Linked DNA regions of Homo sapiens. The protein of the gene in region 1 purifies or fractionates together with the protein of each later gene. This does not show direct contact. Each region holds a gene or a part of one and is shown in the gene's direction. Other genes may lie near its edges.

Region 1 (3,610 bases):
CCCGAGCCTCAGATGAGAGGAGTGGGAGTGCCTGGCTGCGGCCGGTGGGGGTGGGTGGGGGAGGTGCCCGAGGCTGCTTCCCAGAGCTGTTCTCGCTGGCTGCTGTCTGAGCACTGGGGTGGGTGGGGAGGAGGGCGGGTGGGGGCGGGCAGCCTTATCCTGCGGGGCTGCTTGTGTACAAGTACCACGCGGCCTGCCTGGCCCTGAGCCCTGGGCAAGGAGGCGGAGGCTGTTTTTAGATGAAGGTGACTTTACTTGAGAACATGGGTTACGTCTCATGTGGCCAGAATCGAATTCTAACCTTTCTGGGGCTGTGGCCGAGGGTCAGGCGCCGTCCCTCCTCCTGCTGCTCATGGGTGGAGGCTCCTGGTGCGGCGGGCGAGATGGGGTGGTCCGTGGGGTGGGGGCGCTCTGCATTGTCCCCGAGGAGCCTCTATGGAGGCTTTCTCTTCCGGACGCCCCCCCACCCCCAGTGACACGTCAATACACAGACACCAGCATCATCAGCATCCGGAGGGACACAGGGTTGTTCCATCCAAAGCCTTTTGGTCCCTTTGGGAGCGATGCTGCCCGCTGAGAAGCTGGCGGACCCAGCGGGAGCACCGGGACCGGTGCAGATGGCGCCTGGGAGCCCGGGACTCCTGGAAAGGTGGCTGGGGGCAGCTCGGCTGCGGGCCCCACCTGGTCCTCCTCACTTTCCTGTGTGCCCTGCCCTGCCTGGAGGTGGGGTGAGGTGAGTCAGGGGCCAGCCCTCTCCTAGCACCCCTGGGTGAGGAGGATGTGGAGCCCAGCCCTGCAGGTCTGGAGGATGAGGAGAGGGGCTGCTGCAGGGCAGGAAGGAGCTTGCCAGCTGGGCAGCCTCTGGCTGTGCTTCCTGCCCTGACTCACCTCGCCCAGCTCTGCACATAGCTGCCAGTGTTGCAGTCTGGGAAATCTTAACTCCCAAGAAATGTAGGTTACCAGGAGGAGATCCCTTTGTGAAAATGGCACTGCCAGCCAGGCGCGGTGGCTCACGCCTGTAATCCCAGCACTTTGGGAGGCCCAAGAGGGTGGATCACGAGGTCAGGGGTTCAATACCAGCCTGGCCAAAATGGTGAAACCCCGTCTCTACTAAAAATACAAAATATTAGCTGAGTGTGGTGGCAGGCACCTGTAATCCCAGCTACTTGGGAGGCTGAGGCAGGAGAATTGCTTGAACCCGGGAGGCAGAGGTTGCGGTGAGCTGAGATTACACCACTGCTGAACAGAGTGAGACTCTGTCTCAAAAAAAAAAAAAAGAAGAAGAGGAGAAAGAAAATGGCGCTGCCAAAACTTGTCAACTGCGCCTGCCCAGAGCTCACCTGAGGTGCTCAGACGTGAACATTCCTGTCCCCGTGGCCTTGGGGGCCGTGACCTGTGCACTGCCACGCAGCCTCGGAGCCGTGTGCACGCATATGCACGTGTGTATGTGTTGTGTGTGTTTGCAGACGTGTGTCCTTGTGTGTGTGTGTGTGTTGTAGCGGTGCCTGGGGAGTCTGACCTCAGAAGGTGCTGTGGGGAGGGCTGCAAGGTCCTGGCGGGAGGAGGCACTCCCCACGCTTCCCCTTGGGCTGGGCTGTTCCTGGCAGGCGAGTGCTAGGCACAGTGTGAGGTTCTGTGTGGATTCTGCTGTGCTCCTTGGCAGCTCTGGGGGCCTTCCCTTGCATTTCGAAGGAAGGGGAGGCGTGTGGCTGGAGGTGAGAGGCCCTGAGGCCCTGCCTGGCTCCCAGCTTCCCAAATCCGCCTCTCTCTGGGTCGCCGCCCTCAGAGATTGCTGAGGACACGAGCTTTCCACCCACGGGCTGTCCTAACGGAGCCGGGCTAGGGGCTTCTGGACAGAGGCCGCCTGCCCCTTTGGGCTTTGGGGTTTGTTTTTCTCAGCAGCTCACCCGGGTCTCTGGGGTCAGGGTATCGGGCAGAAGTCAGAGGACGGTGCGCTTGGGACCTGAGCTCTGGGCAGCCCTCGGGGCTCAGGACTCCTGGCTCTTCTGCCCAGTTTCATGTGTTTTGTGTTTTGAAACCACGTGTGGTCCCACAGTTGTGCCCTCAGAAGCCGCCGTGGCTGCCGTGAGGTAGCAGTGGACGGGACGCCCACGGTCTTTCCCATGCCATGCTGTTTCCAGCCGGGCCCCATCACTCTCCCACAAGCTGAAAGGAAGTGGCTTCTCCACCAGCCCTGGCTGGGAGTCCTGTGGGCGAGGCCTTCCCCAGGAGCTGCCCTCCCAAGTGCCCCAGGCACTAACAAGACCCCACGCGTGCTCTCCCCACAGCCGGCTTCGTCCAGGCGCCGCTGTCCCAGCAGAGGTGGGTGGGGGGCAGTGTGGAGCTGCACTGCGAGGCCGTGGGCAGCCCGGTGCCCGAGATCCAGTGGTGGTTTGAAGGGCAGGGTCCCAACGACACCTGCTCCCAGCTCTGGGACGGCGCCCGGCTGGACCGCGTCCACATCCACGCCACCTACCACCAGCACGCGGCCAGCACCATCTCCATCGACACGCTCGTGGAGGAGGACACGGGCACTTACGAGTGCCGGGCCAGCAACGACCCGGATCGCAACCACCTGACCCGGGCGCCCAGGGTCAAGTGGGTCCGCGCCCAGGCAGTCGTGCTAGTCCTGGAACGTGAGTGGCGGGCACCTCCCTCCCCGCCTCCCTCAGTTTCCCTCCTGTGCCGCTCGCCTCCCGGCTCCTGCTCAGTAGAACCCAGACGCCTCCTCCCCTCTCCGTCCCGCTGTGCCCCGTTGGGCCCACCGCCTGGACGGAGGGGCCCGGACCTGAAGGGGGTGGGCTCGCCGCCTGACCACCAGCGCTGGGCGGCCTGGCTCGGGGCAGGCAGGGCTCTGCCCTCCAGCAGGTGGGTCCTCGTCCTCCCCTCGACCCTCGTGCCATCCGTTCCGTCGTTTCTGCTTCCCCGGGCGCCTGCCCGGCTCCCTCCCTGAGCGTCCATACTGCAAGCCTGAGGGGCCCTCCAAGCTCAGCCCAGGCTTGCAGGTCTCAGAACCTTCTGTGTCCTTCGCAGCATCTCGTTCTAAGGGATTTTCAAATTTCAATTCCTAGCGGGAATATTGTAAACTAACCAAGAACCAAGAGATTTGCTTGGTTGGGGATTGGCAGAAGAACCGGGGTGCTCCCAGCACTGCTGGAGTGCCGTCAGCCTGGGGCTGGGGGGATGTGGGGCCACCTGAGTGCCTCCTAGAGAAGGGCACGGGAGCCTTGGCCGGGGGTGCTGTGGCTATTTTTTTTTTTTTTCCTGGAGATGGAGTCTTGCTGTTCCCAGGTGGAGTGTGGTGGCACAATCTCGGCTCACTGCAACTTCCGCCTCCCGGGTTCAAGCGATTCTTCTGCCTCAGCCTCCTGAGTAGCTGGGATTACAGGCATGAGCCAACATGCCCAGCTAATTTTTTGTATTTTTAGAAGAGACGGGGTTTCACCGTGTTAGCCAGGATGGTCTCGATCTCCCGACCTCGAGATCCACCCGCCTTGGCCTCCCAAAGTGCTGGGATTACAGGCGTGAGCCTCCGCGCCCGGCCACCACCGCGCCCAGCTGGCTACGTTTTTAGAAAAGAATTTCCAGTTTGTGCTGGGGCTGCTACAAG
Region 2 (4,115 bases), on another chromosome or scaffold:
AGGAGTTCGAGACCAGCCTCAGTAACATAGTGAGACCCCATCTCCAAAAAAAAAAAAAAAAGGCCGGGCGTGGTGGCTCACACCTGTAATCCCAGCACTTTGGGAGGCTGAGGCGGGCGGATCACGAGGTCAGCAGTTCCAGACCAGCCTGACCAACATGGTGAAACTCCGTCTCTACTAAAAACACAAAAATTAGCCGGGCATGGTGGCGTGCACCTGTAATCCCAGCTACTCGGGAGGCTGAGGCAGGAAAATTGCTTGAACCTGGGAGGCAGAGATTGCAGTGAGCCAAGATTGCGCCACTGCACTCCAGCCTGGGTGATAGAGCGAGATTCCGTCTCAAAAAAAAAAAAAAATTGTACAGGCTACAGTTGGAAATGCGTTTTTTTTTAAAGACCAGATAATTATTTGAAGTCAAGTACCTACTGTTCTTTGATCAACCCAATACTGAATACCTCCTCTGTGCTGGGTACTACCAGGGATATGAAGATGAACAAGATGCCATCCCCATCCTGGACGTTCCCCTGGGTTGCAGAGGGCAGGGTGGGTGGGTAATGTGTAAACAAGTTGTGAGGGTTCAGTGAACAGAGACAAGGAGCAACATGCATGCTGCAGAGGGTTCCTGAGAGTGCTGCAGAGGAAAGGGACCATACTCAGGAAGACTTCACAGAAGCGACTTTTGAACCCTTCAGGAAGACCAGGAGAGGATCCTCGCCAAGGCAGGGATGAGGAATGCAAGATGGGAGGCTTGGGCCCCAGAGATTCATCAGTGATATTAAAGTGTTGGCCCAGATGGGGTGGTGGGTAGATGGAAAATAAAGATGGACCTCCCCGCCTCCTCCCCACCATCCACCATCAGAAGACTGGAGGTATAGAAACAAGTTAGGAGGCTGCTCTGTCCCAATGAGAAATGCAGGATGCCTGAGATGCCTGAGCCGCAGCAGTGGAGGCACTCAGGGCACAGCCAAGAGATGAGGAGGATTTACTGACAAAAATGCCAGTCACCAAGAGAGAGACAAATCAGACACCTGTTCTCAGTGCTGTGATGGGCTGGGTCTGGTAGGAGGCAAAGGATGTGTTAATTATGATACAAGTAGCAAGTGTTGGATGTCATGAGAAATAGCTAAAAGGGCTCAAACCCATCATTGTTTGGCCCAGGAACATATGAAAACATAGGTACTTGTTTTTCTAAAGTGTTTTGCTTTTTCAGGATGGGATAAATGCCATAACTAATCCATAACTAAGAGTATCTGTTCAGTGTCACTACAGTTCTGTTCCTTTTTTCTTTTTTTATGCAGATTACCCCACATTCCTAAGCATGTTCATATCTCAAGCTTTTTATGATCATTTCACATAAAATATTATTCAATTGAGCAAGCTGAGACAAGGCAAGTTGTTCAAGAATGAATGTGATCAAGTCCAGGAGGAAGCCATACCTCTCACTTGTCCCTGCCTTGAAGCAGTAGCAGAACTTGCCACCCAACTTGAGCAGTGTGCCACTGCCAGCCAGCTCTTTGGCTCAGGTTAACTGCAGAATAATTTTCCGTGCTGAGAATATTTGTTAAATATCACCATCTCTTCATTATGCTTCTGTAATTCTACCTGCCTGGCAGCTGTCTGCAGGCCAATATGTCAGGTGATAAGCTACCAACTGCCATGGAGCTGCCCCTTTAGTTATCTTTGATTTGGGGAAAACTGCAAAGTGATATTTTTACCATTTTAGTATGGGTCTAAGCAAGGGGTGTGTGTGCATGTGTGTGTGTGTTGTATGTTTTAATGTATTCATACACTAATCATGGGCCTTTTTCTTAGTATTCTTACATTCCCGTGCATGTGACTTTCCAGTTATGTAACTTGCTGTTAGAAAACTTTAGATTCCCTTGGTTCCTGAAGTACACAGAAGTGGTGTTCATTTTCAGAGTAGAAACTGATGTGCCTTTCAGAATGGCTGACAAATTTTGGGGGTAAGAAAGTATGTTACATGTCCTTAGAGAGAGAGAAAGAATTGATTTATGAAATAGTACTTTTAAATTTTTCTTCAGATTTGGTATCATTACCGTAATTGGTAGACAGTAAAACCTGTCACTTGAAAATGAGCATCTGTCACGTTACCATTAATAACGTTAACGTACGCTAGGCCTAAGACTCCCTGCAGTGACCCATCTTGTTTGAATGAATTGTCTTTGTGTGTAGATAATAAACCTGCTGAAGAAGTTGTCCCGGCCAGCATTCTTCTGCATTCCAACATTGCCAGCCTTGTCAAAGACCAGGTGATTCTGAAAGTGGACTCCGGAGACTCGGAAGTGGTCGATGGGCTTATGCTCCAGCACATCACTCTCCTCATGTGCTCAGCTTATAGGAACCAGCTGCTCAACATTTTTGTGCGCCCATCCTTAGTAGCAGTAGCATTGCAGATGACACCAGGGTTCAGGAAAGGTAATTTTCAGGAATGCAATCTTGACTTTTAGAAGAGGTCTGGCCATTCCATTCCATTTAGGGAGCCACATTTGAAGCCTTGTAATGTTCAGCCTCACGCCGGTGAAGAGCAGGCCTATCACTGAGAAAAAGTTAGCTTTGTTCCCCAAATACTTGTTCATCTGCTTCGAATTTTGGAATTGGGAGGACCTGGAAATAATCTAAACCTTTCCTTCTATAAATATGGAAAATGAGGCCTAGAAAGTTGCATAATTACTGAGAGAAGGATCTGGCATTTGAGTACAGTTCTCCACTTCCTGGTCTGCGGCACTGTTTTGGCTGTGCCAGCTCCCTGATCCAGCAAAGGCAGGTGGGCAGATGAGCAGTCAGCAGTCGATGAGTACTCCCGAGATGCATGGTCTTGTTCTAATTGTATCAGGAGTATAAAAATGAGTACAGTACACGTCATGTTCACAGGAGCCTGTAGTCAAGGCCAGGGGGTTCTGTCAAGGCCCTATGTTAGAATTACTAGGGGAGTGAGCCCCACCCCAAAGTTTCTTCAGTTGACCTGGGGTATGGGCCAGCCATTGGTGTTTGGTTTTGGTTTTGGTTTTGGCTTTTCAAAGCTCCACAGTGATTCTAAGGAAAAGTGCTACAGATATAATAAAGATACCAGGAAATATGAATATAGAGGGAAATTAAGAAATCAGTACCTTTCCTTCCCTACTAGGGAGCCATGGGGTAGGGAAAAATGAAGCGTCCTGGCCTCTAAGGACTGTGATGTCTCGCTGAGTAGAAGCCTGGTTGTAGGTTAGAGTCAATCATTTAAAAACTATGCTAGGGCCGGGCGCAGTGGCTCACGCCTGTAATCCCAGCACTTTGGTAGGCCGTGGTAGGAGGATCACGATGTCAGGAGTTCGAGTCCAGCCTGACCAACATGGTGAAACCCTGTCTCTATTAAAATACAAAAATTAGCTGGGCATGGCGGCGAGTGCCTGTAATCCCAGCTACTTGGGAGGCTGAGGCTGGAGAATCGCTTGACCCCAGGAGGCGGAGGTTGCAGTGAGCCAAGATTGCACCATTGCACTCCAGCCTGGGTGACAGAGCGAGACTCCATCTCAAAAAACAAAAAACAAACTATGCTAGACCGTAGTTTGCTCTGTGGGTAAGATTTGGGTTTAATTTAGCTTCCCTCAGGGGACTTAATTCTTGTCCCTGTTACATGAATAAAATATGCCTTTGAAATACATTTTGTGATAGTAAGGACTTCCTGGTACTCCCTTAAAGTTTAAAGGGCAATGTTGTAATTTTACATGATGCATTTATTTCCAGAGGATGTCTACAGTTGCTTTCGCTTCCTACGTGATGTTTTTGCAGATGAGTTCATCTTCCTTCCAGGAAACACACTAAAGGTAAAGTGCTTACAACAAAGAGCAAGTATGTTTGCAGTGTGAGTTCTAGAAATGTTAGGGGTGAATTCACAGATGTGTCTCAGGCAGTGTGCCATCCCTTTCTTCAAGGCAAAGTGGGGCAGACTTCAAGAGAAACTGGGGCGCTCACAGTTCAGCAGACTCTAGTTTGATTCTTGATCAAGTTTAATTAATAACTTAGGGATTATATGGTGAGAGGAGAGTCATTCTTTGAACTATCAGTGTGGCCATTACAACTAAACTAACTTTATTTTAGTAAACGTTTAAAAA
Region 3 (4,115 bases), on another chromosome or scaffold:
TTGGGAGGCTGAGGCAGGAGAATTGCTTGAACCTGGGTGGTGGAGGTTGGCAGTGAGCCAAGATCACACCACTGCACTCCATCCTGGGCAAACAGAGTGAGACTCTGTCTCTATTAAAAAAAAAAAAAAATTAGTTCTATCAAAATTAGTTTTGTGTTAGAGTGATTAAAACTGTTGAAAACTTCTAGCCACTTCTTTCTGAGAACATTGGGTTTTTAAAAATAAATAAAACATCCTTTGGAATTTACTAGACACTTACGGTTATATTTCTAAGTAGCCCCAGTGTAGCCATGCATAATCTCCATTCTATCAGGGAGCCACTTCAGAAGAACTTATCCTATACCTAAGTTCCTAAAGGTTATTTCTTTTCTGTTCTAGAATAATACCTTGCTTCACATTTCTCTCCTCCTTCTCCCATTACTTTTCTCCTCTATGTATCAACTATAACTTTGTTCCTTTCTGTCTCTATAATACATAGGCAAAACACTTTCATTTTGTATTGAATAGAGTTTTACGTAATTAAGTTTAAAACTGAGCTACTGAAGCTTTCTTTTAATTTTTCCCTTTTTAAGCAAAGACAATGCTTATAATTGTCAATCTTGACTTTTTCTCTCTATTATTGAATATTCTTAACTGTTCATATTTAATAAGGCAGTTATATTCTCTTGAAGAGTTCCCATCAGGACTGTAGTCAGTCTTGAGTATCTGAGGCCTCACTTGATCCGTGGCCCCACTATTCCTTTGACAGTCTTTAACTCCCTGTCATAGCTGAGGGTTAAGATAACTTCATCCTTTCTACCATTTATGTTTCCCCTTTAACCCGCCTCCTTGGAAATCTGGTGAGATTTTAAGAAGGGATCTTATAAGCTCATATCTGCATTGTTGACCTGTTTTTATATGTTTGTATGACATATTCTTTTTCCCTGCTGGTTTGTAACTGTTTCTTTTTTTTTTTTCTTCCTGGAGTTATATTATCTAGGTTTGTTATATTTATATTTAGAATTATTGTATCTATATTTAACAAAGGATGATTTTCTTCTATATTTCTTTTTTCCTTTTTTTTTTTTTTAGATGTCTTTGGTTTGTTCTGGAAATATTAATGGCTAAAAATGAAAATAACAGTCACGCTTTTATCAGAAAGATGGTAGAAAATATTAAACAAACAAAAGATGCCCAAGGACCAGATGATGCAAAAATGAATGAAGTATGTAATTCTTTGTAAATAATTATGGTTCCATATTGATTTAAAAATTTAGGTGTAAAGTATGAAACTTCTGTAGTATTTATAGATAGCATCAAATAATTTTTTCTATTAGTAATTAGAATTACGTAGAATTAGCAGTAATTTTATTACAAGTAAATGAGCAAAACCAGTAGTGTAAGCTAAGATGCTTACACAGACTGTTGCTTTCATTAGTTTGCTATTCAGACTGGATTCATGTTCTGAAATTATTCCTAGTTTACAGAGTCTAGATTGCCAGCTTAAGTATCTGTGTTTTTAAAAATATACTATTGCAGAAACTGTACACTGTGTGTGATGTTGCCATGAATATCATCATGTCAAAGAGTACTACATACAGTTTGGAATCTCCTAAAGACCCGGTACTACCAGCTCGTTTCTTCACTCAACCTGACAAGGTAGTTACTTTACAATTTGTTTGTGTAAGTTGAAATAAAATGTATTCTCAGCACTGGATTGTAGGAAGATCAGGAAGGATCATGGAAAAATTGCTGTGAGTCTTAAGAATGTGATTTAAGATCAGAACCAGAATATGAGTCAAACTGGAGGACACACATAAGGTTCAGATATTAGGATGATCTGGTGTTTATGTTCAGTTTTAAGACAGTCTTAGAGCGCAGGTAGAAATGTGATCAAAGCATGTGAATCTGTGAATTAATGGCCATTGTTCAAAATGGGAAGGAGAGTGCTGATAGAGATACAGTCTGAAGTTAAAAGCCCTTTATTGGGATTTATAATTGGTATGAGGAAACAAGCAGAGAACAGACACTAGAACATGCCTAAGACCCTGGGAATACTACAAGAGTGTTACCAAACCATGCTCCAAAAACTCGAGTGTGATATAAGATGTAAAAAGTGTTTCCCACAGTCCCTCTTACTCCTTTATAATTTATTTATTTAATTCCTCGTAATTTAGCTGAACATATTGAGTAACAGAGTCTGGAAATAACCACTATCCTCTTTTTGCTTTTAAAGCAAAATGCCAGTTAAGACCTTACCAGTGTATAGAGATTTGGAACAGGCCTGTAGGATTGCTCAGTAGCTAAAAGGGCTGTCACGTTGGTGTGAGCAGAGTAATAGGAATATGTACATGTGGTCTTTCCCCTGAAGGGTGTTATTAAAGAAGCATGTGTTTTCTGATGCACTCTTAGAGCTCTAACATGTTAGAGCTCAAATATGTTTTGTTAATATTAGAGTTGGCATGAGGTTGGTTTAACCTTATTACAGTAGTTAAAATCAGTGACTGAAATTTTGTGTTTCATATGATAATTTAGTTTAAATAAAAAAACTGCTGTTTGCTTTGTTGGCTTTTGAACCACCTGTAGATAGTGTTTTAATATTCACTGACTACTTCTTTTTCTCTTGGTTGTAGAATTTCAGTAACACCAAAAATTATCTGCCTCCTGAAATGAAATCATTTTTCACTCCTGGAAAAGTATGTTTTGAGAATCATTTTAATTTTTATGTGGTAGCTTATTTTAGAGTGATTATTGGCAAAATTGTGTTATTTTGTATTTCTTCAAAAATTTATATTTTCAAGCTGGAAAATATAAGAATTAACGATCTTACATTTACTAGTAAGAAATAATTATATTTACTAGATATACACAAGCTGAAATACACAAATTACTTTTTAGCTTGTAATAAAGTCCTAGGAGACCTGATTCTTAGACTTCTTAGGTTAATATCAAGATAAAAAAAATCTTAAAAGGCTTTTTTTTTTGAGACGGAGTCTCTGTTGCCCAGGCTGGAGTGCAGTGGCGCATCTCGGCTCACTGCAAGCTCCGCCTCCTGGGTTCAAGTCATTCTCCTGCCTCAGCCTCCTGAGTAGCTGGGACTACAGGTGCCTGCCACCACGCCTGGCTAATTTTTTGTATTTTTAGTAGAGACGGGGTTTCACTGTGTTAGCCAGGATGGTCTCGATCTCCTGACCTCGTGATACACCCGCCTTGGCCTCCCAAAGTGCTGGGATTACAGGCGTGAGCCACTGCACCCGGCCAAAAAAGCATATTCTTATGTCTTTCCATGGCAAGAGTCTAATTATCTATTTTCATTGTTGATTATTCATTTCATTTGTTCTCACTTTTTATGTAAGCCGTTTTCTCCAGATAACTAAGAAATTCAACTGTTATGCTGTCTGTATAGTTTTTAATTTGTTCAAGTGATATTTAGTTTATACTTATTACTTTGCTTAAGGATAGACACATTTTTCATGATTTGTAAGTAAATACTTTGAGAGAGATGTTATTTATGGTTCTTTACACGTAACTTTCTTTTGGCTTTAACCAAATAAAAAGAGATGTGCATTTCTCATTTCAGCCTAAAACAACCAATGTTCTAGGAGCTGTTAACAAGCCACTTTCATCAGCAGGCAAGCAATCTCAGACCAAATCATCACGAATGGAAACTGTAAGCAATGCAAGCAGCAGCTCAAATCCAAGCTCTCCTGGAAGAATAAAGGGGAGGTAAGTGCAAAAGAAATGCCACAATTTACATTTAAGGATTCCAGCAAGGCTATGAGATCTGAAATAATATAATCCAAAATGTTTCATGTCAGTAAATGGAAAGTAATGTATTACTTAATTTTTCCATTTAACATTGGTAGTCACAAGTTCATACTTATTTGCTTGCTCATTTTGGATGGGTGCTCTGTCTTAGTCTTTCATTCTTTAGCTTGTTGGGGGTAATCTGTGTTAGTACACATAAACTAGTTTCCAACCTCAGTGTGTAGCAATTGTAAAACTGTTGTATTATGGTGTATGATACAATGGAATACATAGTCATTAAACATGATGAGGTCTGAGTTAGTATGGAAGAGTTTCCACAATACATTATTGAGTGAAAAAGGCAAAGTATATAAAGCAGCATTATGGAA
Region 4 (4,115 bases), on another chromosome or scaffold:
CTAATCTGAAAACAGAGATAGCCATACTCAGCTCCTAAAAGTACTACCCCCTCACTGTAACTAAATGATTCAATGTATGTAAAATGCCTTATACATAACAAGTACTAGAAACGTTTGTTCTGTGTTCTCTTTTCCTTCTCTTTCCTTCCCATTCCCATTTCTGATTACAGGGAATTTACATAACTTTAAAAGTGACTATTCGGCCAGGCGCAGTGGCTCACGCCTGTAATCCCAGCACTTTGGGAGGCCGAGGCAGGCAGAACACGAGGTCAGGAGTTCGAAACCAGCCCGACCAACATGGTGAAACCCTGTCTCTACTAAAAAAAAATACAAAAATTAGCCAGGCATGGTGGTGCGTGCCTGTAATCCCAGCTACTCAGGAGGCTGAGGCAGGAGAATCGCTTGAACCCAGAAGGCAGAGGTTGCAGTGAGCTGAGATCGCACCACTGCACTCCAGCCTGGGTGACAGAGTGAGACTCCATTACAAAAAAAAAAAAGTGACTATTAATAAATTACCCATAGTTCATCAAAAGTTGGCACTATACCTAAGTAGGGCTGAATTAACCAGTGCTCCAACATGGCTTTAGCCACCTTCTTTTAATCAGCACATTCTTGTATAGGAAACCTCCCCCAAACCACCAGCACCACACAGTGAGCACTATTCTAAATACTCGGATTGAAAAAGTCTCTCTGCCTTCAAGAAGTTCAAAAGAGCAGGTGATTCACAAATGACTTGCATTGCATTCACATATGGGTAAGAACAGATGACATGGGAGAATCCCACTCTCTATATATCTAGACCTTAACTCCATCCACAGCCCACCTACCTTGGAAAGAGGGACTCAGCTGGGTGATGAATGAAGGAAATGTTTGGCCACACTTGGAGCAATGTCTTTAGGAATAATACAGAGTTGCCAAAATACCTGTCAATGATTGTAGAAACGTATTGAGTGGGAAGGGAGACACCGCGTTCTTACTGTGCGCCTCCCCAGGTGTAATCGAATCCTGGACCGGAAAGGGGAAGCAGTGCCATTCAAGAATAAAGACAGAGATGATATGGTACGCACTGTCATCGAGCCCATGGCCTGTGATGGACTCCGGACTATCTGCATAGCTTACCGGGACTTCGATGACACAGAGCCCTCTTGGGACAATGAGAATGAGATCCTCACCGAACTGACCTGTATCGCGGTGGTGGGCATTGAGGACCCTGTGCGCCCAGAGGTGAGAGGGTGGGAAGCCACCCAGGAGTCTCAGGAAGTGGGGTACTAGTTCCCTTTCTAGTTGTGACCCCAGGCAGGTAACCTAACTGCCTCTCACTTAGAGGGATAGAAGTTTCTGTGCTTCCTGCTTCACAGGACTGCTGTGGAGTGCCAGTATGATCGAATGTGGCATTCCTAGGACTAATGCTGTCTGAGTGTTGAGAAGCAAAGGGCTTATTGGGCTCATTATTTGGTACTTAAGTGTTGTCAGGAGGTCAATTTAGCCAGGACACCAACTTTGTCTTTAGCTCCCTCCTTTCAATCAACACATTCTTTTTGAGTACCTGCTGTGTGCTGATAACTATTCTAGACACTAGGGGATTGAAAAGTCTCTGCTTCTAAGAAGTTTAGACAGATGGACTATTAATTCTCAAGGCCCAGAGGCATGAGAGGGTGTCATGCATGTGGGAAATTACAAAGAGCTGATATGGTTGGAACATGGGCCAGGTGGGTGGAGAGTGGCAAAAGCTTCTGCTAGAAAAGAAAGCACTGGCCAAATCGCAAAATGCCATTCATGCCCTGCCGAGAAGTCTCAATTGTAAGTGAAAGAGCAAGTTTTTACACCTCACTCCCAAAGCAAATTTCCCCTTCAACTCATGGTACAATAGGGCAAATTCAAATGTGACTGCCGTGGGTAGGACAGAAGTGAGGTGGCACCCAACAGTATCAAAATGACCAGACCTAGCCCATGCTGCATGGCACCACTTCTAGGGTGCCTTTCTCCTGTCTGCCACAAAGGGACAGACAAACAGGGACAGCTTACCAGGGTCATCACCCTCATCTGCGCCTTTCCCCTTTCTTCACTCTCCATAGGTGCCAGATGCTATTGCCAAATGCAAACAAGCTGGCATTACTGTCAGAATGGTGACAGGTGACAACATCAACACAGCCCGGGCCATTGCCACCAAATGTGGCATTCTGACACCTGGGGATGACTTCCTGTGCTTAGAAGGCAAAGAATTCAACCGGCTCATCCGCAACGAGAAAGGCGAGGTGGGTCCTGGCTAGGGGGAACCAGGACCTCACCTGACAAGGAAAAGGCGGGTTCTAGCATAAGGCATCTGGGTCATGTGCGGGAAGGTGGGTGGTTTCTAAAGTGAAAGCTATTCGTAGTGAAACATCTCCTTGTACCAAACTGCTGATATGGTAACATTGGGAGTTGCCGGCTGGGCGCGGTAGCTTACTCCTGTAATTCCAGCACTTTGGGAGGCCACGGCGGGTGGATCACAAGGTCAAGAGATAGAGACCATCCTGGCCAACATGGTGAAACCCCGTCTCTACCAAAAATACAAAAATTAGCTGGGCATGGTGGCGTGCACCTGTAGTCCCAGCTACTGGGGAGGCTGAGGCAGGAGAATCACTTGAACCTGGGAGGCGGAGGGTGCAGTGAGCCAAGATCATGCCACTGCACTCCAGCCTGGGCAACAGAGCAAGACTCCGTCTCAAAAAAGAAAAAAAAAAGAGGGGGGGAGTTGCTTGTGAATGAAGCTTGCTAGCTTCATTCACAAGCTATCTTTTGAGACAGTGTCACTAACTTTTCTTGTCTTTCTGCTTTTTCAGTTTTTTATACTGACTTCCCCCTAGCCCACCCCTCCTGTGTCCCTGCCCTTTGGCTAACAGTGGCTAAAGGAGAATGTGGTCTGGCGGTGGCACAGATCCAAGCTTTCCTGAGCTACATAGAAATCAAACCTAAGACCTCAGAAGCACCACTTTACCCACCCGAGCCAACAGCCAACCCTGGCCCACCTCCCATTAAAGGTCTGGGAAATGGGGGATTGGCTGCCAGGTAGGGACTTGGGAGGAAAAAGAAAAAAAGCAGGGCCTGAATGGTCATCATCCATGAATCTACCCTTGGAGACTGGTTGGCTGTTTCATCTCTGCTTAATCCAGAATAACACTTTCATGTGGGACTGTGGTGTACCCAATCTCCCAGTGACTCCAAGTGTATGGAGAAGTTAAGATTTTCCTGGATAGCTTTTCTGCATTTGACTGATCCAGGTGTGGTCTGGTGTTGGCAGGTAGAGCAAGAAAAGCTGGACAAGATCTGGCCTAAGCTTCGGGTCCTGGCGCGATCTTCTCCCACTGACAAGCACACCCTGGTGAAAGGTGAGGTTGGCTTCCAAATAGGTGCCTGCAACAGCTGAAGGCAGGCCAGGGCGAGGACAGATAAGAACCACCAGCCAAAGCCACTCTCCTGTCCAAATAGGGAGGTCCTAGGAGAGCTCCCAGGCTAGTGGGGAGAACATACAGTTAGCAAACATCTGAGCCCTTGGTGAGTATGACACACAATAAAGTTGTTGGGTTTTTATTTTTTTTATTTTTTGTTTTTATTTTTGGAGACCGAGTCTTGCTCTGTCACCCAGGCAGGAGTGGAGTGGTGCAATCTCAGCTCACTGCAACCTCCGCCTCGTGAGTTCAAGTGATTCTCCTGCCTCAGCCTCCCGAGTAGCTGGGACTACAGGCGCATGCCACCATGCCTGATTAATTTTTGTATTCTTAGTAGAGACAAGGTTTCACCATGTTGACCAGGCTGGTCTCGAACTCCTGACCCCAGGTGATCCGCCCACCTCGGCCTCCCAAAGTGTTGGGATTAGAGCCGTGAGCCACCGCACCTGGCAATTGCATGGGTTCTTAAAAACATGATCATGTCTTATTTACCAATAGTACTGTGAACTAGGCAGGGCAGGTATTCCCATTTTACAAATGAGGAAGTTTGAGGCTGAGAAGACAAGTAACTTACCCAAATTACCCAGCTGGTACGTGGAAATGGTGCAGTTTGACCCCTAGGTCTCTGCCTTGAAATCCATCCTATGTGTTCTTCATAGCTGTCTTAGGGTACCGGATGAGGACAAA
Region 5 (4,115 bases), on another chromosome or scaffold:
AGAGTTGTTTTTTTTTCTTTAAATGTCTACTATGTACCAGGACCAGAGAACAGTTCTTTTTTTTCTTTTCTATTTTTTGGAGACAGGGGTCTGGTTTTGTCACCGAGGCTGGAGTGCAGTGACACAATCTTGGCTCACTGTAGCCTCCCAGGCTCAAGCGATCCTCCCACCTCAGCCTCCTGAGTAGCTGGGGACTACAGGTGTGTGTCTCTATACCTGCTCATTTTTCTATTTCTTTTGTAGAGACAGGGTTTCATCATGTTGCTCAGGCTGGTCTCAAACTCCTGAGCTCAAGCAGTCTGCCCACCTTGGACTCCCAAAGCACTGGGATTACAGGCATGAGCTACCATGCCCGACCAGTATCAGTTCTTTTATGGCATTTATTAGCTGTAAATGCTATTGATCCTATATGTAATCAATTAGGATTGGACTTTGTGGTTTGAATAATCAAAAAAAAAAAAAAAAAAAAAAAAAAAGTCAGGCCGGGCGTGGTGGCTCACGCCGATAATCCCAGCACTTTGGGAGACCGAGGCGGATGGATCATGAGGTCAGTAAATCGAAACCATCCTGGCTAACATGGTGCAACCCCGTCTCTACTAAAAATACAAAAAATTAGCCGGGCGTGGTGGCACGTGCCTGTAGTCCCAGCTACTCGGGAGGCTGAGGCAGGAGAATCACTTGAAGCTGCGAGGCGGAGGTTGCAGTGAGCCGAGATCACACCACTGCGCTCCAGCCTGGGCGACAGAGCGAGACTCCGTCTCAAAAGAAAAAAAAAAGAAAAAGGGCCGGGTGCGGTGGCTCACGCCTGTAATCTCAGCACTTTGGGAGGCTGAGGCGGGCGGATTACCTGAGGTCAGGAGTTCGAGCCAGCCTGGCCAACATGGTGAAACCCCGTCTCTACTAAAAATACAAAAATTAGCTGGGTGTGGTGGCACACGCCTGTAATCCTAGCTACTTGGGAGGCTGAGGCAGGAGAATTGCTTGAGCCCGGGTGGCGGAGGTTGCAGTGAGCCAAGATCGTGCCACTAACTGCACTTCACCCTGGCCGACAGAGCGAGACTCTGTATCAGAAAAAGAAAAAAATTCACTCTTTTTCTTTTACCACTATTTGAGATAATAAGTGGGGAAAATGTATGAACATTTTACAGTGCTATATAGAAATAAATTGTGACATATATGAAATATATGCTATTATTTATAAGTAACTGTCTTACTACACCCTAAGTTGTTTTGTCAGAAGTGATGGACTTTGCTAATCACTCACACATAACCCACTGTGAATCCTCTAGGTAGAGTTAATCATTCCCTGCTTTGGGTGTACATGATACTTGCTTTTGATTATTTATTTATTTATTTATTTATTTATTTATTTATTTATTTATTGAGACTGAGTCTCGCTCTGTCGCCCAGGCTGGAGTACAGTGGCGCGATCTCGACTCACTGCAATCTCCGCCTCCCAGATTCAAGCGATTCTCCTGCCTCAGCCTCCTGAGCAGCTGGGACTACAGGCGCCCGCCACCACACCCAGCTGATTTTTGTGTTTTCAGCAGAGATGGGGTTTCACCATGTTAGCCGGGATGGTTTAGATCTACTGACCTCATGATCCGCCTGCCTTAGCCTCCCAAAATGCTCGTATTACAGGCGTGAGCCACCATGCCCGGCCGCTTTTGATTATTTAAGTGCATTCCTCTCCTCTCCCCAGCAACTATTCTGAGTTCTTTGAAGCAGAGGATCTTGTTTTACTTGCCTTTTGAATTTATTAAATTATTTGCGTCTGTACCCATCCATTCTTTCTATGTTTATGAAAGAGTTACCCTCCTGTCCAAGGATTGTCTTTTTACTTATATCTGGTTCCAAGAAGAGGAGTCACATCTCAAGAATTGGTTGCTTAGGTCTTTCCATTATAAGGGAGAAACAAAACAAAGCCCTCTTGATCTCATACAGTTCTTTAGTTATCACCAACTCTACTTCTCTTCATTTCATGATCAAGCTTTGGAAAGAACCCGCTATTCTCAGTATTCACATTTCATTAGATTTTCAGCCCCTTGCAATCTGGCTTCTCTCTTTACTGCTACAGGAAAATTTTAAAAGTCCAAAAGGCATACAAATACCTAAACATAAGAACTAAAACTATGAAACTCTTAGAAGTGAACATAGAGGGGGCCGGGCATGGTGGCTCACACCTATAATCCCAGCACTTTGGGAGGCCAAGATGGGTGGATCACCTGAGGTCAGGAGTTCCAGACTAGCCTGACCAACATGGAGAAACCCTGTCTCTACTAAAAATATACAAAATTAGCCAGGCGTGGTGGTACATGCTTGTAATCGCAGCTACTCAGGAGGCTGAGGCAGGAGAATCGCTTGAACCCAGGAGGCGGAGGTTGCGGTGAGCTGAGATCGCGCCATTGCACTCCAGCCTGGGCAACAAGAGTGAAACTCTGTCTCAAAAAGTAAATAAATAAATAAAAATAAGGGAACATAGAGGGAAAACATTATGACACTGGATTTGGCAATGATTTCTTTGATATGACACAAAGCACAGGCAGCAAAATAAACAGATAAATTGGAATTCATCAAAATTAAAAACTTTGTGCATCAAAGGGCAGTATCAATAGAGTGAAAAGGCAACCCATGGAACTGGAGAAAATATTTGCAAATCATATGTCTGATAAGGAGTTTAATATCTAGAATATATTAAGAACTCCTACAGCTTAACAACAAATATAACCTGATGAAAAACAGAAAAAGAACTTGAATAGACATTTCTCCAAAGAAGATATACAAATGGACAAATAAGCACATGAGAAGATGCTCACAATTACTAATCATTAGGGAGATGCAAATCAAAACCACAGGATACTGTTTCACACCCATTATGATAGCTATTAATAAAAAAACAGTTGGGGCTGGGCATGTTGGCTGATGCCTGTAATCCCAGCACTTTGGGAGGCTGAGGCAGGCGGATCACGAGGTCAGGAGATTGAGACCATCCTGGCCAACATGGTAAAACCCCATCTCTACTAAAATACAAAAAATTAGCCAGGCATGGTGGTGCATGCCTGTAGTACCAGCTACTTGAGAGGCTGAGGCAGGAGAATTGCTTGAACCCGGGAGACAGAGGTTGCAGTGAGTTGAGATCATGCCACTGCACTCCAGCCTGGTGACAGAGCAAGACTCTGTCTCAAAAAAAACCAAAAAACAAAAAAAATCCCACAAAAAAAAAACACAGTTGGGCATGGTGACTCATGCCTACAATCCCAGCACTTTGGGAGGTCAAAGCAGGCAGATCGCTTGAGCCCAGGAGATTGAGACCAGCCTGGGCAACGTGGTGAAACCCTGTCTCTACAAAAAATACAAAAAATTAGCTGGGTGTGGTGACATGCACCTGTGGTGCCAGCTACTCAGGAGGCTGAGGTGGGAGGATCTCCTGAGGCTGGGAGGTTGAGGCTGCAGTGAGTTATGGGTGCACCACTGCACAGTAACCTGGGCAACAGGGTTAGACCCTGTCGCCAAAAGGGGAAAATAAAATAATAATAAAAAAACACCCAGAAAATAACGTGTGTTGGTGAAGATGTGGAGAAATTGGAACCCTTGTCCACTGCAGGTGGGAGTGTACAATGGTACAGCCACTGTGGAAAAGGGTATTAGCGTTCCACCAAAAATTTAGTTTTTATGTGCTTCAGAAGGGAGGAAGTGAATGCTAATTGGTCCATAGGCAGTCATGGGTGGGCCTGGAAAAAGCACCCTAAGTTCTCGCTGTGGTCCGTGTAACTGGCAGCCAGGCTTCCAGGCTTCAAGCTGTTCCTGGCTTGAAGGTGGGTCTTCACTGGGGACCCACCCCTTTCCTCCCAGGAGCCTACTTCCTGCTGCCATCAACCTGCCACCCACTACACCGAGGCTGTTCGTGCCGAGGGGCGCCTGCAGGCCCATATTGAGCTGCCCTCAGCCTACCGCTTGGCCTGCCCAAAGTCCAGAGGGAGATGAGGCAGCAGGGGGCTGGTGTGTCAGTGCCGTCCTGAGCACATGCACACGCGGCCTGGTCCTGACAACACCTGGGCTCCCCCACAACTTTGCTCCGAAATTGGTGTGGGTGCCGGGAGCGGGGAGAGGCCAGG
Region 6 (4,115 bases), on another chromosome or scaffold:
AGCTGGGTTCCTCTTTTGTCTTGGGGACTCGTGGGACTCAGTGCCACTGAATACCACTGGTTTTCTGGTGTCCTTGCAGTAACTATCCGAAGGTTACACACATCAGTGTTGAAGCAGGGTCGGCCTGGCCCCAGAAGAGCTTTTTCTCTCCTCTGCTGCCTCTTGTACTTGTAAATGTAGATGAGCTCATTGTGGAGACTTAGGGCTGTGGGCTGGTCCGAAGAAGGTACGGTAAGAGGTAATGACAACTCTGGAAAAGCTGTTAACTTTCAGTTTTCAGACAGGAATGATGAAAAAGGCAAATCTTAGGAGTTTAAACTGATGAAGAGAAATACAGTGGAATCAAACACTACTTTTGGTTAGTGTTTAAAGCCAGCAATTAGGGTGAAAATCTTGGCAAGGCATGGTGGCTCATGCCAGTAATCCCAGCACTTTGGGAGGCTGAAGTGTAAGGATTGCTTGAGCCCAGGAGTTTGAGACCAGCCTGGGCAACATAGTGAGACCTTGCCTCTGCAAAAAAAAAACCAAAAAACAAATATTAGCCGGGCATGGTGGTGTACACTTGTAGTTCCAGCTACTTGGGAGGCTGACGTGGGAGGATTGATTGAGCCTGGGTGGTTGAGGCTGCAGTGAGCCGTGACTGTACCACTGGACTTCAGCCTGGGCAAGAGTGAGACCCCATCTCAAATTTCAAAAATGAATTTTGTTTCTTTAAAAAAGTAAAAATCTCAAGTAGATGAAATTTAAAATGTACGACGTGGACAGTCATGCACACTGCATAGACTGCATATGCAAAATGTGATTTTTTTTTTTTTTTTGGAGATGGAGTCTCGCCCTGTCGCCCAGGCTGGAGTGCAATGGTGCGATCTCGGCTCACTGCAACCTCTGTCTCCTGGGTTCAAGCAGTTCTCCTGCCTCAACCTCCCAAGTAGCTGGGATTACAGGCGCCCACCACCATGCCCAGCTAATTTTTTTTGTGGTATTTTTAGTAGAGACGGGGTTTCAACATGTTGGCCAGGCTGGCCTCAAACTCCTGACTTTGTGATCCACCCGCCTCGGCCTCCCAAAGTGCTGGGATTAAAGGTGTGAGCCACCATGCCCCACCGATTTTTTTTTTCTTTGTAGAGACAGGATCTCACAATGTTGCCCAGGCTGGTCTCAAATTTAGAGACCCAGGTGATCCTCGTGCCTCTGCCTCCAAAAGTGCTGGGATTAGAGGTGTGAGCTACTGCACCTGGCCCACAATATGATTGTACAGTATTTTAAATTTCTAGTTTGTTTGTAATTAATTTTTTTCCCAGCGCACATCATTGAATTTCTGTAAGTTAAATGTACATGATATGGCCTCAATGAATAACTCTCTGCTTCTCTTTCAGGCGAAACTTGGCCTTGAGACAAATATCAAAATAGAGTGGTGGATGCAGTTGGGGAAAATTGGAGCCTTTTAATAAAATGACATGCTCCAAATCCTGGGTGGTTTCCATTTTCAGGATGAGGGATTAAATGTGTCTGGAGACAGGGCACAGGGGTAACTAGTTCTTAGTCTTTGAAAAAAAATTTTTTAATTTTTAATTTTTTTTGTTTGAGACAGAGTCTCACTCTACTGCTGCCCAGGCTGGAGTGCAGAGGCGTGATCATGGCTCGCTGCAGCCTCAGCGTCCCCAGGCTCAGGTGATCCTCCCACCTCAGTAACTGAAACCACAGGCATGTACCACCATGCCCAGCTAAATTTTTATATTTTTTGCTAAGACAAGGTCTCACCATGTTGCCCAGGCAGATCTCAAACTCAGGCCAAGCACAATGGCTCACGCTTGTAATCCCAGCACTTTGGGAAGCCAAGGCAGATGGATCACTTGAGGTCAGGAGTTCGAGATCAGCCTGACCACCATGGCAAAATCCTATCTTTACTAAAAATACAAAAATTGGCCAGGTGTGATGGCTCTTGCCTGTGATCCCAGCACTTGGGAGGCCGAGGCTGGGGGGATCACTTGAGGCCAGGAGTTCAAGACCAGCCTTGCCAACATGGCGAATGCCTGTCTCTACCAAAAATACAAACATGTAGCTGGACGTGGTGGCACACACCTGTAATCCCAGCTACTCGGGAGGCTGGGCATGAGAATTGCTTAAACACAAGAGGCAGAGGTTGCAGTGAGCCAAGACTGTGCCACTGCACTCCAGCTTGGGTGACAGAGTGAGACTCTTGTCTTAAAAAACCTACAGGAACCTCCTGGGCTCAAGTGATCCCCCCGGCCTTGGCCTCCCAAAGTGGTAGGATTACAGGCGTGAGCCAATGTGTCCTGCTGGTCTTTTAAATTTATTGCAACATTCTGTCACAGTAGTGCTTACTTGCCCCTTGCTGAGGCCTATTAGCTTATCTTCCCTGTCTTATCTGAGCTGTTCTCTTCTCCAGGCTTCTTGCACCTGGGTGGCCTCCGCACTGCCTTGTACAACTACATCTTTGCTAAGAAGTACCAGGGGAGCTTCATCCTGAGGCTAGAGGACACAGATCAGACTCGCGTTGTGCCTGGGGCAGCGGAGAATATTGAGGACATGCTGGAGTGGGCAGGTAAGCCTGGCAGAGAAAGGATCTTTCTGCAGGGAAGGAACAGGAAGCAGGAAAAGGAGCCTGTGGGTCTTCTCATGGAGTTCTGAGTGGAAAATGGGGAGTTCCTGGAGAAGTGGCTACATTTGTACTGCCCTGCCCGGGGTGGCAGATGACACCTGAAAAAATGCCGAAGCTCTCTGAAACACAGCTCCAAGACTGGTTTCTTTATTTTTATTTATTTATTGTTTTTGAGACAGAGTCTTGCTCTGTTGCCCAGGCTGGAGTGCAGTGGTGCGATCTCGGCTCACTGCAAGCTCCGCCTTCCGGGTTCACGCCATTCTTCTGCCTCAGCCTCCAAGTAGCTGGAACTACAGGCGCCCGCCACCACGCCCGGCTAAGTTTTTTTGTATTTTTAGTAGAGACGGGGTTTCACTGTGTTAGCAAGGATGATCTTGACCTCCTGACCTCGTGATCCACCTGCCTCGACCTCCCAAAGTGCTGGGATTATAGGCATGAGCCACCGCGCCCAACTTGGTTTCTTTATTTTTTAATTTTTTAGAGTCAGGGTCTCATTTTGTTACCCAGGCTAGAGTTCCATGGCACAATCATAACTTACTGTAGCCTCGACCTGGGCTCAAGTGATCCTCCACCTTAGCCTCCCAAGTAGTTGGGACTACAGGCACGCACCACCACGCCTGGCTAATTTTTAATTTTTTTGTAGAGATGAGATCTCACTGTGTTGCCCAAGCTATTCTCAAACTCCTGGGCTCAAGCAATCCTCCTGCTACAGCCTCCCAAAGAGCTGGGATTACAGGTGTGAGCCACTGCCAAGGCTGTTTTGAGATTCCTGTTTTCACCTCAGAATCTCAAGTTCATTCCCTACAGGGGCCAGGCAGGAAACACAGGGCCAAGTGGGAACTGGAGGAGCTGGGCCAGTGCTGAGCTGTGAAAACCACACCTCATCCAGAGTTGGGAGTGCCTCTGAGCTCCAGCTCCTTGTGCCCATGCGGGAATGCTGGCCCAGCTTGTCCAATCCTCTGAGTTGCAAGAGGAGCCAGAAATCCAGTTTTTCTGGATGAATACTTAACCATTATTAAATCTGGGCTCAGATTTTTTTTAACCATGTTGTATAAGCCACACAAAACACGTACAGCTTCTGAAGTTGATCTTGTGGGAAGTTTTATCCTGAGGACAGCTAAGGTCAGGGAGAACAAAGAGGAGTGTGTTTCCTTTTCATGGGTCGACAGTTGTCTACCTGTATGGACGGGTGTGACTAGGAAAGGGGAGATTCCCAAGGAAAAATACCAAGACTCTGCTAGTCTAGAGATTGAAAAAAAAAGAAAGAAAAACCCCAAGACTATTTTGAGATGTGTGTTCTAATCTCAGGTAAATTACTCACTAAACTCTGGATTCCTAAAGAGTATAAAATGGTTGGCCGGGCGTGGTGGCTCACGCCTGTAATCCCAAAACTTTGGGAGGCCGAGGCTGGTGCATCACGAGGTCAGGAGATCGAGACCATCCTGGCTAACATAGTGAAACCCCATCTCTACTAAAAATACAAAAAATTAGC
Region 7 (4,115 bases), on another chromosome or scaffold:
ATTAAACATAGTTACCATATGACCCAGCAGTTTCGCTCCAGATGTATACCCAAGGGAAATAAAAACATATGTTCACGTAGACATTTGTATGCAAATGTTTGTAGCAGCATTATTCCTGATAGCCAAAAGATGGAAACAACCAAATGTCTGTCAACAGACAAATGGGTAAACAAAATGTGCTATATTCATACAATGAAATATTACAATTAAAATATATACAATATTAGCCATAAAAAGAAATGAAGTACTGTACATGCTGCAACATGGATGAACCTTGAAAACATTATACTAAGTGAAAGAAGACAGTAAAACACACACATACACAGATACACACAGTATATTATCCCATTCATATGCAAATCCAGAATAGCAAAATCTATAGAAACACAAAGTAGATTAGTGATCGATTGGGCCTGGGGATGGAGTGAGGAAGGTGGAGTGTTGTAGTTAAAGATACAAGATTTCTTTTTGAGGTGATAAAATGTTCTAAAATTGACTGTGGTGATGATAGCACAGATCTCTGAATATACAAAATTCATCAAATTGTATACTTTCAGTGATTGAATTCAAGTGGTGGTATGCTATGTAAATTATATATATGAAAGTTGTCAGATTCGACATGGAGTCACTTGTGTCAAAGCCTGGCAAAATAGAGCTGGGGGACGGTTATGAAGGGAGAGCTGTCACACATGATTTGCCTGATAACAAGAACTATCACAAGAAATTTTTCTCAACTGCAGCTTACTACACAAGTCACACAGGGACAGCTAGCCACTTAAACAAGAACATTTGCCTGACACACTATCTCACAAGCCCAATCCAAACTGCAAGGGCCTAACCATAACACTAAAATTGCAAGTCCTACTTTGCAATTTACTGACACTCACCAATCAGAACTCACCAGCTCTTATATAAGATGCTGCCAGTGCCAGTAAACTGTCTTTGAAAACAACTTGCATAACCTCCTCTTCCCCCAATAAACTCCAGCCTTTCTTTTGTTTTCCAAACATACCAGAGGCCACCCTGTTCTGTCTGTAGGTCCAAGATAGCAATCCTGCTTCTCGTATGTTATTCCCCAATAAAACCTTTTTACTTAGAGATATGTCTTTATATTTTTTATGCTGACATATCTTTTTCCTTTATTTTTTTAACTGACACATAATATTTATACATATATAGAGTGATGCTGTGATACATGTATAGCGATCAGATCTGTGTAAGAAGAGAATGGGATAAGAAGAGATAGATTAAATTATTCTGGGAATTTTTTATTTTAAAAAAAGGAGTGAGGTTACCTCTTTCATTGAAATAATAAGAAAGTCACAGAGAATAGATGAAGTTGTAAGAGGGAAAAAAACAAGAGAAGTGCCACGTTGAGAAAGGTCACGGCCAGTGGTTTTCTCTTAGGGTAAAACCAAGACAAAAGTCATCTATAAAGATTGAAGAGTTGCACAAGTAGAATTTTAGGTTATTACTTTGACCTTCAGGTCTCTTGATTTTAAAGAAGTTTGTATAAATGTCCAGTAGAAATCATTTTTTCTCTGAAGTACTTGGCCAGCTTAGCAGCAGATACAGAGAACATCTCAATAACATTTTCTTAGAACTTTGAAAGGAAGGTGAATTGGAAAAATCAGGGTGCTAATGAGAGCACCTTGAAATGATGGCTATGGAAAAAGGATGACTATAGACATGGTGGGCTGATGGAGGCTGGAAGCAAGAAGGGGTCATGTAGCATAAATTACAATAAGGTCAAAGAACAAGTTCTTTAGAGTAAAATATACCACCCTTATAGATATGCAAAGCCTAACATGACGTCCATCTGTTTTCTCTGATATTATCTTGTACTACCCTCCTGTTACTTGATCTGCACCTCTGGCCAACACAGCCAGGTATGGTCTCTCCTCAGGGCCTTTGTACTTGCTGTTCTTTCCTCATGGAAAGCAATTTCCCTGAAAATCTACACAATTAGCTCCCTCTTTTCCTTCAGGGCCCCTCAGTAAGCCTTCCTTTGCCTCATCCTATCTAAAATCGGATGGAAAAGGAAAAAAGACTTAAGCATTATTCTCTATCTTCCTTGCTTTATTTTTCTCTTAGCACTTATCATTATCATATTCCATATTTAACTTATTTTAAATTTTTATTTTTGTGTATATCTCTCCTGTTACTGTGTAAGCTTTAAGAAGACAGGGAATTTTTTTTTTTTTTTCTTGACAGAGTCTTGCTGTGTCGCCCAGGCTGGAGTGCAGTGGCATGATCTTGGCTCACTGCACCCTTTCCTCCTGGGTTCAAGCAATTCTCTCTCAGTCTCCTGAGTAGCTGGGATTACAGGCACATGCCACCATGCCACCAGGTCCGGCCGGGAATTTTTTTTTTAAAGCAAGTTCTCTACTATATTTCTGCACCTAGGAAATACTTGGCAAATATTGTAGTGACTTAATATTTGTGGAAGGAAAAGTAGAGATAGAAGGTGGGGCATGTAGACAGTTTCCTTTAAGCTTGAAGATCTTAGAGGTGGAGCAGTTCAAAGTGATGACTCAAATTTGGAAGCCCCCTAGTAAAGCCAAAAAAGGTTATTATAAATGTAGACTTTTAATATAGGACATATTTTAGAAAAGATGTTTGACATTGTAGTTACCAAGGATCTTTAACGGTAGATTTGGAGAACGGGAAAGTGTTAGTTCTTATAATTCAGTGCCAAAATTTCTGCAGAAGTGGGAAGAGGCTTCTGAGGTCAGTAGATGTCATGAGTAAAAATAGTGACATTTAAATAGATGGCTCGGACTTCAACAGAGGATTGCTTCAGACACATTTAGATACTAAGTTCTTTCATGCTTCCATCATGGTCTTGGTATCTTCATCTATTACAGAAATTATTATAATTAGCATTTTACCTGCCAATTTCTTCACAAGACTGTAAAGCACTCTTAATCTCTATCTTCCCAGCACTTTACAAAGTGCCTGGTGCGTAGTATTCTCAGTAAATATGTGTTGAGTGAAATACTTACTGAATGAGAAAACATTAAGAGATAACTATGGAATTATGATGTTGGAGCCAAGAGCATTCTGATCTCTAGGTCATATCAGTGGACCAGAAGGGTGAGAAAAAGAGAAAGCCAAGTTTCATATACATGAAGGAGCAGGTTAGATGTTTTAAAGGTTAACTTTTTAGATGAAGGAAAATTTGTTGTTTATAAAAGAAAAAAGACAATGCAAAAGCTGGTGGAAGGATTGTAAACAGGGATGATGTGAGAAGACAATTAATTATAGGAGTAAGGAAACATGAAAATAATGGTTATAGACATTTGATAGTAATTGTCGAAAGAAAAATGTAAGATCAAATAGTTTGACTGCTAAATGAAAATCAGCATGAATTATTAAAGATATGGGAAGTGCAAGCAGGAAAGAAATGTTTCTCAGGTTACATTTGATGTTGTGAAGAATATTATAAAACAAAGTAGCATAGAACTCCACTTGGGAGTATTTACGTGATTTTAGGACTTCCATAAATACTTTTTATTTTGTCTCACTCTTGTTAGTAACACAAAAATGGAAAATGTAAAAACCTAAGTCTGTACACTTCCCTCTCAGTCAGTGAGCTTTACTGGGGAGGCAGCTATGGATGGAAAGGGCCAAGCTAATGGAGCAGGTCTCTGCAGGCTGGTCTTTCTTCCATATGCTTCGATAACTCTATAGGTATGATTTACAAGTAAAGGCATAGCCCCCATTAGCATTAATAGGATTTTACTGTTATTCTTTTAGTTTAAGGAAACAGATAATACAGTAGGTATTGGTGCATATTATTGTGCATTTATAGTGGGGACTTACGTAGAGATTAAAATGTTAATATAGGCCGGGCACGGTTGCTCACACGTGTAATCCCAGCACTTTGTGAGGCCGAAGCGGGTGGATCACTGGAGTCAGGAGTTTGAGACCATCCTGGCCAACATGGCAAAACCCTGTCTCTACTAAAAATACAACAATTAGCTGGGCATGGTGGCGGGCAGCTGTAATCCCAGCTACTTGGGAGGCTGAGGCAGGAGAATCGCTTGAACCCAGGAGGTAGAGGTTGCAGTGAGCCAAGATTGCGCCGTTGCACTCCAGCCAGGACAACAGAG

The links.
Region 2: the proteins of BSG (region 1) and GNPAT purify together in Homo sapiens (affinity purification with mass spectrometry; 5 studies listed by BioGRID and IntAct, with this or other methods). This does not show direct contact.
Region 3: the proteins of BSG (region 1) and PDS5B purify together in Homo sapiens (affinity purification with mass spectrometry; 4 studies listed by BioGRID and IntAct, with this or other methods). This does not show direct contact.
Region 4: the proteins of BSG (region 1) and ATP2B4 purify together in Homo sapiens (affinity purification with mass spectrometry; 5 studies listed by BioGRID and IntAct, with this or other methods). This does not show direct contact.
Region 5: the proteins of BSG (region 1) and ATR purify together in Homo sapiens (affinity purification with mass spectrometry; 4 studies listed by BioGRID and IntAct, with this or other methods). This does not show direct contact.
Region 6: the proteins of BSG (region 1) and EARS2 purify together in Homo sapiens (affinity purification with mass spectrometry; 4 studies listed by BioGRID and IntAct, with this or other methods). This does not show direct contact.
Region 7: the proteins of BSG (region 1) and COG5 purify together in Homo sapiens (affinity purification with mass spectrometry; 4 studies listed by BioGRID and IntAct, with this or other methods). This does not show direct contact.

The regions. Positions count from the first base shown.
Region 1 is NC_000019.10:575,486-579,095, forward strand, and holds part of BSG (basigin isoform 1 precursor), read left to right. Parts: intron 1-2,288; coding exon 2,289-2,636; intron 2,637-3,610.
Region 2 is NC_000001.11:231,268,565-231,272,679, forward strand, and holds part of GNPAT (dihydroxyacetone phosphate acyltransferase), read left to right. Parts: intron 1-2,193; coding exon 2,194-2,436; intron 2,437-3,747; coding exon 3,748-3,827; intron 3,828-4,115. UniProt on the Homo sapiens protein: Dihydroxyacetonephosphate acyltransferase catalyzing the first step in the biosynthesis of plasmalogens, a subset of phospholipids that differ from other glycerolipids by having an alkyl chain attached through a vinyl ether linkage at the sn-1 position of the glycerol backbone, and which unique physical properties have an impact on various aspects of cell signaling and membrane biology.
Region 3 is NC_000013.11:32,757,016-32,761,130, forward strand, and holds part of PDS5B (sister chromatid cohesion protein PDS5 homolog B), read left to right. Parts: intron 1-1,071; coding exon 1,072-1,204; intron 1,205-1,518; coding exon 1,519-1,638; intron 1,639-2,612; coding exon 2,613-2,675; intron 2,676-3,559; coding exon 3,560-3,705; intron 3,706-4,115. UniProt on the Homo sapiens protein: Regulator of sister chromatid cohesion in mitosis which may stabilize cohesin complex association with chromatin. May couple sister chromatid cohesion during mitosis to DNA replication.
Region 4 is NC_000001.11:203,709,885-203,713,999, forward strand, and holds part of ATP2B4 (plasma membrane calcium-transporting ATPase 4), read left to right. Parts: intron 1-992; coding exon 993-1,224; intron 1,225-2,075; coding exon 2,076-2,255; intron 2,256-3,280; coding exon 3,281-3,368; intron 3,369-4,115. UniProt on the Homo sapiens protein: Calcium/calmodulin-regulated and magnesium-dependent enzyme that catalyzes the hydrolysis of ATP coupled with the transport of calcium out of the cell. By regulating sperm cell calcium homeostasis, may play a role in sperm motility.
Region 5 is NC_000003.12:142,568,734-142,572,848, reverse strand, and holds part of ATR (serine/threonine-protein kinase ATR), read left to right. Parts: intron 1-4,115. UniProt on the Homo sapiens protein: Serine/threonine protein kinase which activates checkpoint signaling upon genotoxic stresses such as ionizing radiation (IR), ultraviolet light (UV), or DNA replication stalling, thereby acting as a DNA damage sensor.
Region 6 is NC_000016.10:23,550,600-23,554,714, reverse strand, and holds part of EARS2 (nondiscriminating glutamyl-tRNA synthetase EARS2, mitochondrial), read left to right. Parts: intron 1-2,410; coding exon 2,411-2,566; intron 2,567-4,115. UniProt on the Homo sapiens protein: Non-discriminating glutamyl-tRNA synthetase that catalyzes aminoacylation of both mitochondrial tRNA(Glu) and tRNA(Gln) and participates in RNA aminoacylation for mitochondrial protein translation.
Region 7 is NC_000007.14:107,283,957-107,288,071, reverse strand, and holds part of COG5 (conserved oligomeric Golgi complex subunit 5), read left to right. Parts: intron 1-4,115.